Linked DNA regions of Homo sapiens. The protein of the gene in region 2 purifies or fractionates together with the protein of the main gene of each other region. This does not show direct contact. Each region holds a gene or a part of one and is shown on either strand. Other genes may lie near its edges.

Region 1 (3,500 bases), on a different chromosome or scaffold from region 2:
GCCATCTATCGTGTGCTGAGCCCTTGAAATGTGACAAGTCAGAACTGATGTGCGCTCTAAGTGTCAAATAGAGACTGTCTCAAAGGCCTTAGTTACCCAAAAAACTGTGAGACACCTGATAATTTTCTATTAATTATAAGTTGTTTTTAATATATTGGGTTAACTAAAATATCTTATTAAAATTAATTTCACCTGGGCATGGTGGCACATGCCTGTAATCCCAGCACTCTGGGAGGCCAAGGCAGGCAGATCACTGGAGCTCAGGAGTTCGAGACCACCCTGGGCAACATGGCAAAACCCCATCTCTATAAAAAAAAAACATTAGGGGGGCACGGTGGCTCACGCCTGTAATCCTAGCACTTTGGGAGGCCGAGGCAGGTGGATCATGAGGTCAGGAGTTCGAGAATACCCTGGCCAAGATGGTGAAACCCCATCTCTACTAAAAAAAAATACAAAAATTAGCCAGGCATGGTGGCAGGTGCCTGTAATCCCAGCTACTCGGGAGACTGAGGCACGAGAATTGCTTGAACCCGGGAGGTGGAGGTTGCAGTGGTGAGATGAGATCGGCCACTGCATTCTAGCCTGGGCGACAGAGCAATACTCGGTCTCAGAAAAAAAAAAATAATAATAATAATACAAACGTTAGCCAGATGTGGTGGTGCACACTTGTGGTCCCAGCTAGTTGGGAAGCTGAGGTGGGAGGATCACCTGAGCCTGGGTTGGTGGAGGTTGCAGTGAGCTGGGATTGCACCACTGCACTCCAGCCTGGGCAACAGAGCAAGACTCTGTCTCAAAAAAAAAAAAAAAAAAAAAAAAAAAGGCTGGGCGCAGTGGCTCATGCCCGTAATCCCAGCACTTTGGGAGGCTGAGGCGGGCGGATCACGAGGTCAGGAGCTCAAGACCAGCCTGGCCAACATAGTGAAACCCTGTCTCTACTAAAAATACAGAAAAATTAGCCGGGTGTGGTGGTGCATGCCTGTAATCCCAGCTACTTGGCAGGCTGGGGCAGGAGAATCACTTGAACCCAGGAGGCAGAGGTTGCAGTGAGCCGAGATAGCGCCATTGCACTTCAGCTTGGGCAATAGAGTGAGACTTCGTCCCTCCTACCCCCCACTCCCCACCCCCTCCCCCCCAAAAAAGGAAGAAAAACTAATTTCACCATTTCTTTTTACTCTTTTGACATGGTTACTAGAAAACTTCACATCACCTAGGGGGCTCACATTTTTTTGCTATTAGACCATTCGGGGCTACAGAGTTCCCATTTTAACCAGACTCAAAAAAAAAAAAAACACTGAAGAAAGAAATTATAGAATTGTGCTCACAGAAACCTTTTTTACCAGAATATCCAACGTTGGTGTATGGCTTCCTGTAAAGCATTTTGCACTCAAACTTCTACGCATAAGACACGAATTCCAAAGGGCTTCGGATGCCTTGAAGCTTACGCATCAAACAGAACTAGAAAAGCTTCGACACGGAAGCAAGCTCGTTTCGCCTCCAGAACGCGCCAGCTGCTCCCCTGATGAATGCAGGCATTCAGGGCTCGTGGATCCGCTGCCGATGCCTCTATTCTGGGCTTCTTCCATATGATTAGGAGGCTGTTCCTACTCTGTAGTTTTTCATTCCAAGCTGCGTGCGATTTTCTGCAATCAGGTTTGTTTCTCCAGGGTTCAATGGGTGGCGACGAAAACACAGAGAGTTTGACAATCCGGGCAGGTGGTGGATACGGAAGCTAAGAGGATTGCACGCGGTGGCTGCATCTGGGGGAGGGTGCGTTAACTCTGCCAAGTCCCTGGAGGGGCCATGAGTGGCCCCAGGGGGCTGCCAGGTGCACAGTGTCCTCTGGCTATGCTGACGCCTCTGATTCTTTGTCTGAGCAGTGAGGTGACTGAGTTGGCCTAAGGCCTCTTAAAGGTTGAACTCAATGAATTAAGGCTGGAGACATTTCTGAATGGCCTGGGGTGTCAACAGGTATGAACCAGTGTGCCCATCATGGCCAGTGGACCCCACTCCCCCATCTCTGGGTGTCAAGCACCAATGGGCGCTGCTGAGAGATTCCGCATGTAACAGGGCTATGGTATAATGGTTTCCCGTGACTGCCGCAACAAACCACTACCAACTGGGTGGTTTACAACAGAAATTCATCCACTTGCGGTTCTGGAGGCTGGAAGTCTGAAATCAAGGTCTTGGTGGGGCCACACTCCCTCTGAAAGTTCAAGGGAGGATCCTTCCTCGCCTCTTCCAGCTTCTGGTGGTCCCAGTGTTCCTTGGCTTGTGGCTCCGTCCCTCCAGTCCCTGTTTCTCATTTCGCATGGCCGTCTTCTCCCTATGTTTCTTGGTGTTTCTGTGTCCAAATTCCCCACTTCTTATAAGGACAGCAATCATTACACTGAGGGTCCACCCTAATCCAAGACGATCTCATTTAACTTTATCACATCTGCAGACCCCACTCCCAAACAAGGGCTCACTCACAGGTCCAGGATTAGGACTGGAACACATATTCTTGAGGAGCACATTTCAGCCCACATGACTGGCTAAGCAGTGGGACCCACAGCCCTCCTGCTCTTATTAACCAAGGGTGGGCTGGGTGTGGTGGCTCACGCCTACAATCTCAGCACTTTGGGAGGCTGAAACAGTAGAATGGTTTGAGCCCAAGAGTTTGAGACCAGCCTGGGCAACATGGTAAGACCCTGTCTCTACAGAAAATTCAAAAATTAGCCAGGTGTGGTGGCATGGGCCTGTGGTCCCAGCTACTCGGGAGGCTGAGGTGGGAGGATCACGAGCCCAGGAAGTTGAGGCTGTAGTGAGCTGTGATTGAGCCACTGCACTCCAGCCTGGGCAACAGAGTGAGATCCTAAACAAAAACAAACAAAAAGGGCCTCTTTGTGCCAGGTGCAGAGCTGGGGCCAGAGTGCAGCCTGGAGATGCCAGGCCTAGGCTGTTGACACAAATGATGTGGTTTATGACAACACCTGCGTTCCCTCTGGGAGTCTAGAATTTTGACACGTGTCAAGCAGAGGGTGACTACATGACCAGCCCCCAGTAAAAAGCCTGGGCAGGGAGTCCTTGGTGGGCACCCTCTGCTGGGGGAATTAAGTGTGTCCCGTATGACTCCACAGGGAGAGAACTCTGAAGCTTGGGCCTGGCCTGCCCGGGAATTCGCGCACCTTTTCCCTTTGCTGATGGTGTTTGCGTCCTTCCGTCACAATAAATCACGGCTGTGAGGACAACTATATGCTGAGTCCTGCCAGTGCTCCTAGGGAACCGGTGAGCCTGTAGATGGTCTTAGGAACCCTGCCACATGCAGCAACTGCAGACCTTCCCGTGAGACAGGTGGCAGCTGGGACCAGGGACCAGGGCGGTGGGGCTGGAAAGAGCCCAGCTGGGGAATTTCCTCTGGAAAGGCCCAGGGGAAGAGCGGCCTCCACCTTGTGGACAGAAGGAGAGCAGTGGAGCGGGGGCAGCTAGGAGATCCCTGTTTACCTGGCACACCATGGGGCACG
Region 2 (2,833 bases):
AATTTGAAAGTAGGATCTTGAAAAGATATTTACACATTCATGTTCACTGCAGCATTATTCACTATAACCAAGAAGTGGAAGCAACCCACGTGAACATCAACAGCATCAACAGAATAACAGGCCAAGCGCGGTGGCTCACGCCTGTCATCGCAGCACTTCGGGAGGCCAAGGCAGGTGGATCACTTGAGGTCAGGAGTTCGAGACCAGCCTGGCCAACATGACGAAACCCTATCTCTTACTAAAAATACAAAAATTAGCTGGGCATGGTGGCACTTGCCTGTAATCCCAGTTACTTGGGAGGCTGAGGCACGAGAATTGCTTGAACCCAGGAAGCAGAGGTTGCAATGAGCCAAGCTTGCACCACTGCACTCCAGCCTCGGTGACACAGTGAGACCCTGTCTCAAAAGGAAATCCTGTCACATGTTACAACATGGATGAAACCTGGGGACATTATATTGAGTAAAACAAGCCAATCACAAAAGGACAGTATACTTTATAATTCCACTTATATGAAATATCAAGAGTAGCCAAAATCATGGAAACGTAAAACAGCATGGTGGTTCCCAGGGCCGGATGGAGAGGGGAATGGGGAGCTGGTCAATGGCTGTAGAGTTTCAGCTCTGCCAAATGAGAAAGACCTAGAGATCTGTTGCACAATGCTAACACTATGCATCTGGAGAGGGTTGGGGGGTTAAATTTTATGTGTTTTTCATCACAATGAAAAATTTGTAAATGTTTTCAAACTTAAGTGCCTAGTGAAGTGCTTGGAGTGCAGTAGCTGCCCTAGGCCCTCTGTCTCCTCTTCCATCCTGGGAACAGCAGCAGCAGCAGCAAACACTCAAGGCCCCTCACCCACCGTGCTGGAAACTGTGTGGGGAGCAGATGCTCAGAGTGAGCCACGGAGGCGGGAGGACCCAGCAGCAGGCGGGGGCTTGCCCACATGGCCACAGGTGAGCTGCTCGGCCTCTCGGCTTTGGTGCCTGCCTCTTGGAAGACTGAGGGGATAAATTGGTTACTAATAGATGTCATATAGTTAAGTAATGCAATGGAAAAGGCCATCTTCCAACGAGGTCCTCCCTTCTCCACCTTCAACACTGCTTGTCCCTGGCCAGCAGCCTTAGTTTAAAGAGTGCCGGAGACTAGGCTCCATGACAAGGCGACAGAGCCGGGGCACAGGCTAAGATGAACCATGAGGCCAGCTCCCTCTAATGGACTACAGCAGCCAGGCAGGGGCCACAGCAGTCCCGCTAGGGCCTCTGAAAGCACCAGGACACAAGGCATGACCCTCTAGAGCGGCCTCTGGACCCCAGGACTTCATTCCACCAGGAAAGAGCTAAGCATGACTTACATTAACACAAGCATCATGAAAGTGAACCAAGGAGGGAAAGACATGAAAAGCCAGAGGTAGGCTGTTTCTACATTTTTAAATACACTTTTCTACATTTAAATGTCACAGATACTTAGACTGCACTGACTTGACAGATAGACTAACAGCTACGAAGCACTTGTTGCAAATGGCTTGTTACTAAAAATGCTTTCAAAATATATAATAGGCCGGGCACAGTGGCTCACGCCTGTAATCCCAGCACTTTGGGAGGCCGAGAAGGGTGGATCACCTGAGGTCAGGAGTTCGAGATCAGCCTGGCCAACATGGTGAAATCCCGTCTCTACTAAAAATACAAAAATTAGCCAGGCGTGGTGGTGGGAGCCTGTAATCCCAGCTACTCAGGAGACTGAGGCAAGAGAATCACTGGAAGCCAGGAAGCAGAGGCTGCAGTCAGCCGAGATCGCGCCACTGCACTCCACCCTGGGCGACAGAGTGAGACTCTGTCTCAAAAAAAAGAAAAACAACAACAAAAAACAAGAACCATATAATAGAAGCGCCTCCCACCACCCTGTGTCCTCCCATTCCTCCCTGCCCCGTCCCACCTTCCCCAGAGACCTCCCCTCTGAATGGCCCTCACCTTGTGAGTCATCAGCAACTTAAAGACACTAGAGAGAAGGCTGGACACATGAAGCTGGAAAAACAAAATAAAGGCTAATGCAGACCACCGAGCCTTCCAGAACCGCTCATTTCCCACCACCCCCACACTCTCAGCCCCAGCATCCCACCCCACTCCCCCGCCAGGGCACACATACACCAGTCAGCACAAAAGGGACCATCTGACAAACTCTGAAAGGACTCCTCCAGCACAAGCCCAACTCCACCTCAAGACTCGGTCACAGAGGCCTTTGGAAGACAAGCCTTTGAGCCCCACCCACCCCATCCCTGAAGCAACCACAAAAATCACACCTGCCTATAATCCTAGCACTTTGGGAGGCCAAGGCGGGCGGATCACTTGAGGTCAGGAGTTCGAGACCAGCCTGGCCAACATGGTGAAACCCCATTTCTACTAGAAATATAAAAATTAGCCGGGTGTGGTGGCGGGTGCCTGTAATCCCAGCTACTCGGGAGGCTGAGGCAGGAGAATCGCTTGAATCCGGGAGGTGGAAGTTGCAGTGAGCCGAGACAGCATCACTACACTCCAACCTGGGTGATACAGCAAGACTCCATCTCAAAAAAATTTTTAAAAAATCACACCTGGATAGACTATCAGCAGGGCCAGCGTGCCAGTGGCCACTCCTTGTCTGACCCATTCCTGCTAATGTGGCCATGAACTTGGGGATAAAACAGTCACATTTGCTAGAACTGTGTATAAAATACAAAGCAGGCTCTGGCTTGGGTTTAAATAAGGGACATGCGCATTGGGCACATCATTTGGCTGCTTGGAGACCACAGTCCTCCCTCCCTGTATGCTTGGCTGTCCCCAAATGAACAGCGACCCCTGGATGA
Region 3 (3,500 bases), on a different chromosome or scaffold from region 2:
GGGGGAGTAACAGACTTGCCTGAGATCACAGATCTAAAGGATCCAGCTGGGGCCAGAGCCCAGGCCTGGCTGACTTCAGAGTCTAGTGGACTCTTCCCACCCAGGATGTAACCCTGGTCGTCGACATCCTCCTGAGTACACCCACAGGCCTGAGAAGAACCGAGGGGTCTCACAATTTAGTCACCTACACCAATTTCTAGCCACTTACATTTTTCACCTATCCCTTCCTGCCAACCAAGCACAGACACACTCACTCCCCCACCAGGTAATGAGGAGCAGAGGACCGTAAAGAGCGGCTGCCCCTCTCGGCACAGCCTCCCTAAACTGCACAGGTCGGGGTGAGGGAGCTGCTTTGTGAAAGTGCAGGTGTGGTCACCGGCTCACAGGTGGCGGTCCACTCCGCTGTCTAGGAGTAGAAGCGGGAAGAGCTATGGGAGTGGAAAAGGGGTTCTCGGTGGGCCGGCCTGCCAGGGCTTTCCTACAGCTGCCTGGTTTTGCTGCGGGCTCTCACCGCCTCCTGCACCACCTCCTCTTGCTACTGCTGCGGAAGCCCGCCTCCAGGCTGTGGGAAGACTCAACGAGGTCACTAGCGGCGCCTTGTGGCACTAAGAGGTATTGCAAGCAGTCTATGAATTCGTGCGCACACTAAGTTCAACACTCTGAAACAGTATTCTTTCATACATGGGTCTTCTACGATTTTTTAAATATGTGACTTTTCATATATGTATTCCTGTTGGTATTAATAAATTAAAACTCATTTAAAATCTTCCTTAGTGCACTTTCTCCTTAAATGAACATGAAACATAACTATTCTAATGAGCAGGAAGCCCAAGACACTTTATTTAGCTTAAAACCGAGGTCTCTATTATTTACAAGGTGCAATGTAAATGGAAACAGTTTGTTACCGTTAAAGTGCTGTGCACCACAGAGGGCTGATCCTTGTTTACCCTGCCTGGTTTACGCATTCACTGGTCAACGTCCAGGCCATGACTCCAGGCAGAGTATCTGGTCACTGCCCGATCCCACCACTGGCGTTCATGGGACCATAAGTCACCAGCGGCAGAAGCCATTCCTGAGGCCTCATGACTGCCTATCTCTATGGCCAGGTTAAGAATTAAACAGCATTGTTAATCCCAATACTTTGGGAAGCCAAGGCAGACACGTCACCTGAGGTCAGGACTTTGAGACCAGACTGGTCAACATGGTGAAACCCTGTCTCTACTAAAAATACAAAAATTAGCCAGGCGTAGAGGCGCATGCCTGTAATCCCAGCTACTTGGGAGACTGAGGCATGAGGATTGCTTGAACCCAGGAGGCGGAGGTTGCAGAGAGCTGAGATTGCTCCACTGTGCTCCAGCCTGGGTGACAGAGTAAGACTCTGTCTCAATAAATAAATAAATTAAATTAAATTAAATTAAATTGAAGAATTAGACGGCATCGTGAACGTTCCTGGGAGAGGTGCCACACTGAACCTCCAGAGGCTGGCCGCTGGGCAAGTTCGTGTTAGGTTTCATTTAAAGCAGCCTCTGAGTATGGGAAGAAGTGTGGTCAGGCTTCTCCTCCTCTCAGAAGGTGTCAAGTTTATAAACAGTGACTCTCAATGACCGCAGCTTACATGGTCACTGTGTACAGTATTTTATCATCTATAAAAATCCTATATCTTGCCTTATTCCAGTCTACCAGAAGAGGTATTACAAGTCCAGTTTATACCAATAAAGAAACTGTGACTTGAAGAGCCTAAGCGACTTGCCAATGTCACACAATTAGGAGGTGACAGAGCCAGACTAGGGTGGAGAGTCTGCCTCCTCCCATGGAGTTACCACTGCTATATATTCTGTGTTTAGCTCAGCAGAGCACAGCCTGACACAAGTGGCTGCTGGCAAATGTCATTACTGTCACAGTATTCGTGCATCCAGCAAAACGTTTTTTTTTTTGAGTACCCATGCAGTAACTGTGCTATATTCTTTCCATTAGGGGCAAAATGTCATGGAAGCAACAACGGCAGACTCCAGCCATTCCTTCAACCATGGGGATCAGTGTGTACGTCACTTTCCCTTAAGAAAGAAAAGAAAAATTCCATTTTCATATCTTCCTGTTAGCAGACATGCCTCCACTGTGCCTCCCGCTGTGAGCATTTTACAGACAAAGGCTTCCCTATGCCTCTGTATTTCTTTTCCTCCCACTGCTGTACCACCGCGGGCTCTGCCTGTGGGTGACTAACATCAGGAGGCAGGGCTGGTCAGGCACAGAGGTCTCCCAGCTGAGCGCTGGCATTCCAGAAGCAACCCCAGCCATGGGCACCATGAGTGCCCAGAGGCAGAAAGTGGTGTAGCTCTGAGCAACCTGCCCAATAGCAGAGAGGCTGTGGACACCACTGTTTGCTTCCCTTCCCATGATTTATGGGATGTGGCCAGGCCTTTCTCTTCCCGATTTATGACCACCTGTCTTGGGAAGAACATAAATTACACATCCATGGCAATTTAAATCTCAGTAAGAGATAGGAGAAGACACCTAGGCTGGCCGCACTGTCTCCTGGGGTATTAGAAGCAATTAGGGCCAGATTGTTGGGCTTCACAAAGCCTGCGGAAGATCAGGGGGGTGTGCTGGCTCCTTGCGCCCCCCGCCTTCCCACCCTCACTCTGTGTTTAGGGTCAATTATCCTCCTTCTATAAACACAGGCTCCCAATGGAGGAAGGGGGGCACTGAAGATGCAGAGAACAAGCCCAAACACGTGAAGTGCTTTGCGGAGGCTGTTTCTGCAAGAGCATAAACCTTCTAAATCCAGAGGGAAGGATGCCCCACACCGAGCAACACACAGGGGGAAGAGAAAGAACAAGATGGACAAAAAAGGATGACAGCCAATTCCCCAAACCACTTGGCTGATTTACACAGAATCATCTATTTCTGTCCTGCCTCCTTTATTTTATAGGGAAGAACACTCAGGGTCTGAGTGCGGGCAGGGGTAGGAGCACAGCAGTCGGTGTGCTGCACATCCAGGTCTCCTGACTCCCAGCCCGGGATCTTCCCGCTGGCCCACCCTGCTTTCTGCCCCTAGTAGCTCCTCTGTGGCCATGGAAAACAGGAAGACTGAATTCTGGTTTGTTCTGATGGTGAGTGAGCGCATTTCAAAGAATAGCTATAACCCTGGTCCTCTCATCAATGTTCTGTCACATATAGTGACATTTCCCCCCAAAATTTTACTATGAAAATTCTCAAGCAGGCAAATGGTGAAATAATTTTACAGCAAACACCCATTTACCCGCTGCTTGAATTCTGAGCTTAACACTTGACTATATATATTTGTTTTTTTGTTTGTTTGTTTGTTTTTGTGAGACAGAGTCTCACTCTGTCATCCAAATTGGAGTGCAGTGGCACAATCTCAGCTCACTACAACCTCCACCTCTCGGATTCAAAGGATTCTCCTACCTCAGCCACCCGAGTAGCTGCAAATACAAGTGACCACCACCATGCCCAGCTAAGTTTTGTATTTTTAGTAGAAA
Region 4 (3,500 bases), on a different chromosome or scaffold from region 2:
CATGGGCTGCTTCTTCCCAGTGGCCTAGAAGTCTGAAACAGATTTACACTCATTTTAGGAGCCTTTTATACATATTCACCTATGTGGCATGATATCTTTCTTCCTTACAAAAAAGGATTGTTCTAAAACAGGCTTAAGTTAAATATTAACTATAAACTTTCACTAACCAATTCAATTACTATATCCCATTTTAGTTAACTCTATAAAAACCTGAAAACATTTAAATTTCCTCTATTTAAAGCTGCTTTTCTACTAAAAGCTAAAAAACAAACAAAATCTTTCTTAATTCAGAATATCGTAATTTTCTAAGTATGTAGACCAGTAACTTTCAACTCGCCCAAACCAGGACTAACATAATGTGTTAGCTTTTAGCTACCTTCTATGTAAGACAGAAGAGAAAATAATACATGTGTACAGGCTTTACGAAAAACTCAGAACAAGTAAACCAGAAACTAAAGGTTGGTGACAGTAGGTGAGAATGGGGCAGAGGAGACAGCAACGAAAACTGAGAATTCACTGGGTATACCTTTTAACTCAGGTGTAACTCTTCGAACATTTAAATGCTTTACATACTCAAAAAATAAAATCAGAAAAATGGAAATAAAGCAAATCCTAAACCTGAATACAAACAGAAATAAGAAGCTGTGTGGCTGGGCGCGGTGGCTCACGTCTGTAATCCCAGCACTTTGGGAGGCCGAGGCGGGCAGAACGCGAGGTCAGGAGATCAAGACCATCCTGGCTAACCCGGTGAAACCCCATCTCTACTAAAAATACAAAAAACCAGGCGCGGTGGCAGGCGCCTGTAGTCCCAGCTACTCAGGAGGCTGAGGCAGGAGAATGGCATGAACCCAGGAGGCAGAGCTTGCAGTGAGCCAAGATCGCGCCACTGCACTCTAGCCTGGGTGACAGAGGAAGACTCCATCTCAAAAAAAAAAAAAAAAAGAAATAAGGTGTGGCTAGGCGCGATGGCTCATGCCTATTATCCTAGCACTTTGGGAGGCTGAGGCTGGTGGATCACCTGAGGTCAGGAGTTCAAGACCAGCCTGGCCAATGTGGCAAAACCCCATCTCTAATATAAAAAATTTGCCACACATGGTAGCGCACACCTGTAATCCCAGCTACTTGGGAGGCTGAGGCAGGAGAACCGCTTGAGCCCGGGGCGGGTGCAGTGAGCCAAGATTGCACCACTTCACTCCAGCCTGGGTGAAGGAGCAAAATGCCTCAAAACAAAACAAAACAAAACAAAACACTGTGTATTGCATTAACAACATAAGCTACACAGAAAAAAATGAATTCAAGTAACTTTTCATAGTTATCTTGACTGTATATTTCAAGTGGGATATATATTCTAAGAATAAGAACATCCTTGGGTCACACCTGTAATCCCAATGCTTTGGGAGGGGAAGGAGGGCAGATCACTTGAGGCCAGGAGTTTGAGAATAGCCTGGCTAATAGGCGAAACCCCCTCTCTACCAAAAATACAAAACATTAGCTGGGCATGGTGGGGCGCGACTGTAAGTAATCCCAGCTACTCAGAAGGCTGACTGAGGCAGGATAATCACTTGAACCTGGGAGGTGAAGGTTGCAGTGAGCCTAGATCGCACCACTGCACTCCAGCCTGGGCAACAGAGTGAGACTCTGTGTAGAAACAAAAGACAAAGCAAAACAAAAACTTCCCAAAAAACCTTCAAACTTTACTTAGAGTGTATACTGTTTTTAAGGTATTGTAATTCTGAAACAGTTTTATGTATATCACAGCATTGTAGTAAGTAAATGTAAAACTAGGACAAAAATTTTTACCACACAAGTGTCAAAAATACAAACTAAAAGGTAAAACAAAACATTTAATGTTACATTTTAATAGAAAATATCAGTATAAACTCACAATTTCAAGAATTTTTTCCCTAAATTCATGATTTTTAAAATGTTTTTTTCTAGCTGTTCATTGAAACGACAGTACATACCAGAAGCAATGAACAGACACAGTGATCAAATCTTAGTTTCCGCTATAATGAACCACGATTTCCCACAGAAATAGCTTATTTTCAGTCTGAGACAAGCAAAGCACAAGATGAGCCAACGCTGTCTTGTATTAGAAGGCAAAGAAATACTTGGACTAATGGGATTTCAAAAGGATCAACAGCAATGCATGGGCTTTTCCTGTGCTGACACAGCATTAATAAATTTTATTTCAACTTTTAATGTTTATCTTTAACATGTGTCATAAAATCCACTAGAGCTACTCTGAGTCAGCTAATACAGTTGTCCTAAAAACATATCCATCTTTATCTCCATCCACATTTGAGCCCTTTCAACCCAGGTAACATGTGAAAGTCACTGAACACTTCATTCCCAAGATACAAATATTCCTAAGTTTTGCTGCAAGGTATAATTACTAATCTGGGTTAAATTCACCTCTTTATGCCCCCCCGCCTTCTCCTAATTTTTCAGGTGGCCTAGCAGTGACTGAAGTAGTTTCAGGCTGGCATACTCCTTCTTCTATAATACACTGGTAGTTCAATGCTAACTTACAGAGTCTGAAAGTAAGAGAAAATTTGTAAGGACACTGATAAAAGATCATTCTTTCTTTTCCTGGAATTAATTTTAAGTAAAAATCCTTTCCTTATATTTGGCCATATGTAGTCAAAAACTGGTAAGAGTAGCTTTATTTGAATGAAAAAAATGAAAATACTTTTTATTTCTTCCTTCCTATATTCTCACTTCTTCTTTTAAATTTCTTTTTTTTTTCTTTTACCTTTTAAGCAGCTGTCTACAAGCTATCTCACTTCTTGATACTAAGTACACACTAATTTGAAAATTAAGTCATTAGGAACTTTTGTGTTTTTGTTTAAACAAAGCATCTTAAAACATCAGATTTAAATGTAAAGAGTTCTGAAAATAATTAAATTCAATTATTTACCTGTGTGCTTTCCCCCGCCACTTGTAAGGCTGAGCTGAATCAGGATTTATTTCAATGGCTCTGTCACAGTCTCGGATGGCAGCATTTGGCTTCTGTAATTTGACGAAGACACTGAAAAATAAGTGTGTTATTAAAAAGTATTCATTTCAGTAAAAGTTTTGGGATCAACACAGAAGCAACTCTATTTAAACAAATGTGCAGAAATTATTTGCCAGGGGATGCTTTTCTGTTTAGAGTTCTCACCTGGCCCTCTTGGCATACAAAATGGCCAAGCGAGGATTCAGCTTGATGGCATCTGTGAATAAGTCAATGGCTTTCTGGAGTTCACCTAAAGTGAAACAAAAGTTATCGAGAAATATTCAGAGGATAAAAATATTAATAAAAAGTTTTGATCTGTTATCCAGTTAAGTCTTTTACATTTTTCTTTTAATCAAGTAAAAATAAAAAAGACAACTAAGTTATACTAAAACTGGCTCTTGAAAGCAAATCTTACCACACCTATACTGTAACTCACGAGGTAAGACAATTTCTGAGTACGTAAGCCCCTAACTAACAATAGAATAGCACATTCTTAGTATGA

The links.
Region 1: the proteins of ADCK2 (region 2) and BRI3BP purify together in Homo sapiens (affinity purification with mass spectrometry; one large-scale study listed by BioGRID and IntAct). This does not show direct contact.
Region 3: the proteins of ADCK2 (region 2) and MTARC1 purify together in Homo sapiens (affinity purification with mass spectrometry; one large-scale study listed by BioGRID and IntAct). This does not show direct contact.
Region 4: the proteins of ADCK2 (region 2) and ST13 purify together in Homo sapiens (affinity purification with mass spectrometry; one large-scale study listed by BioGRID and IntAct). This does not show direct contact.

The regions. Positions count from the first base shown.
Region 1 is NC_000012.12:125,014,145-125,017,644, reverse strand, and holds part of BRI3BP (BRI3-binding protein precursor), read right to left. Parts: intron 1-3,500. UniProt on the Homo sapiens protein: Involved in tumorigenesis and may function by stabilizing p53/TP53.
Region 2 is NC_000007.14:140,689,945-140,692,777, reverse strand, and holds part of ADCK2 (uncharacterized aarF domain-containing protein kinase 2), read right to left. Parts: intron 2,019-2,833; coding exon 1,965-2,018; intron 1-1,964. UniProt on the Homo sapiens protein: The function of this protein is not yet clear. It is not known if it has protein kinase activity and what type of substrate it would phosphorylate (Ser, Thr or Tyr).
Region 3 is NC_000001.11:220,807,413-220,810,912, reverse strand, and holds part of MTARC1 (mitochondrial amidoxime-reducing component 1 precursor), read right to left. Parts: intron 1-3,500. UniProt on the Homo sapiens protein: Catalyzes the reduction of N-oxygenated molecules, acting as a counterpart of cytochrome P450 and flavin-containing monooxygenases in metabolic cycles.
Region 4 is NC_000022.11:40,832,640-40,836,139, forward strand, and holds part of ST13 (hsc70-interacting protein), read right to left. Parts: intron 3,249-3,500; coding exon 3,164-3,248; intron 3,032-3,163; coding exon 2,921-3,031; intron 33-2,920; coding exon 1-32. UniProt on the Homo sapiens protein: One HIP oligomer binds the ATPase domains of at least two HSC70 molecules dependent on activation of the HSC70 ATPase by HSP40. Stabilizes the ADP state of HSC70 that has a high affinity for substrate protein.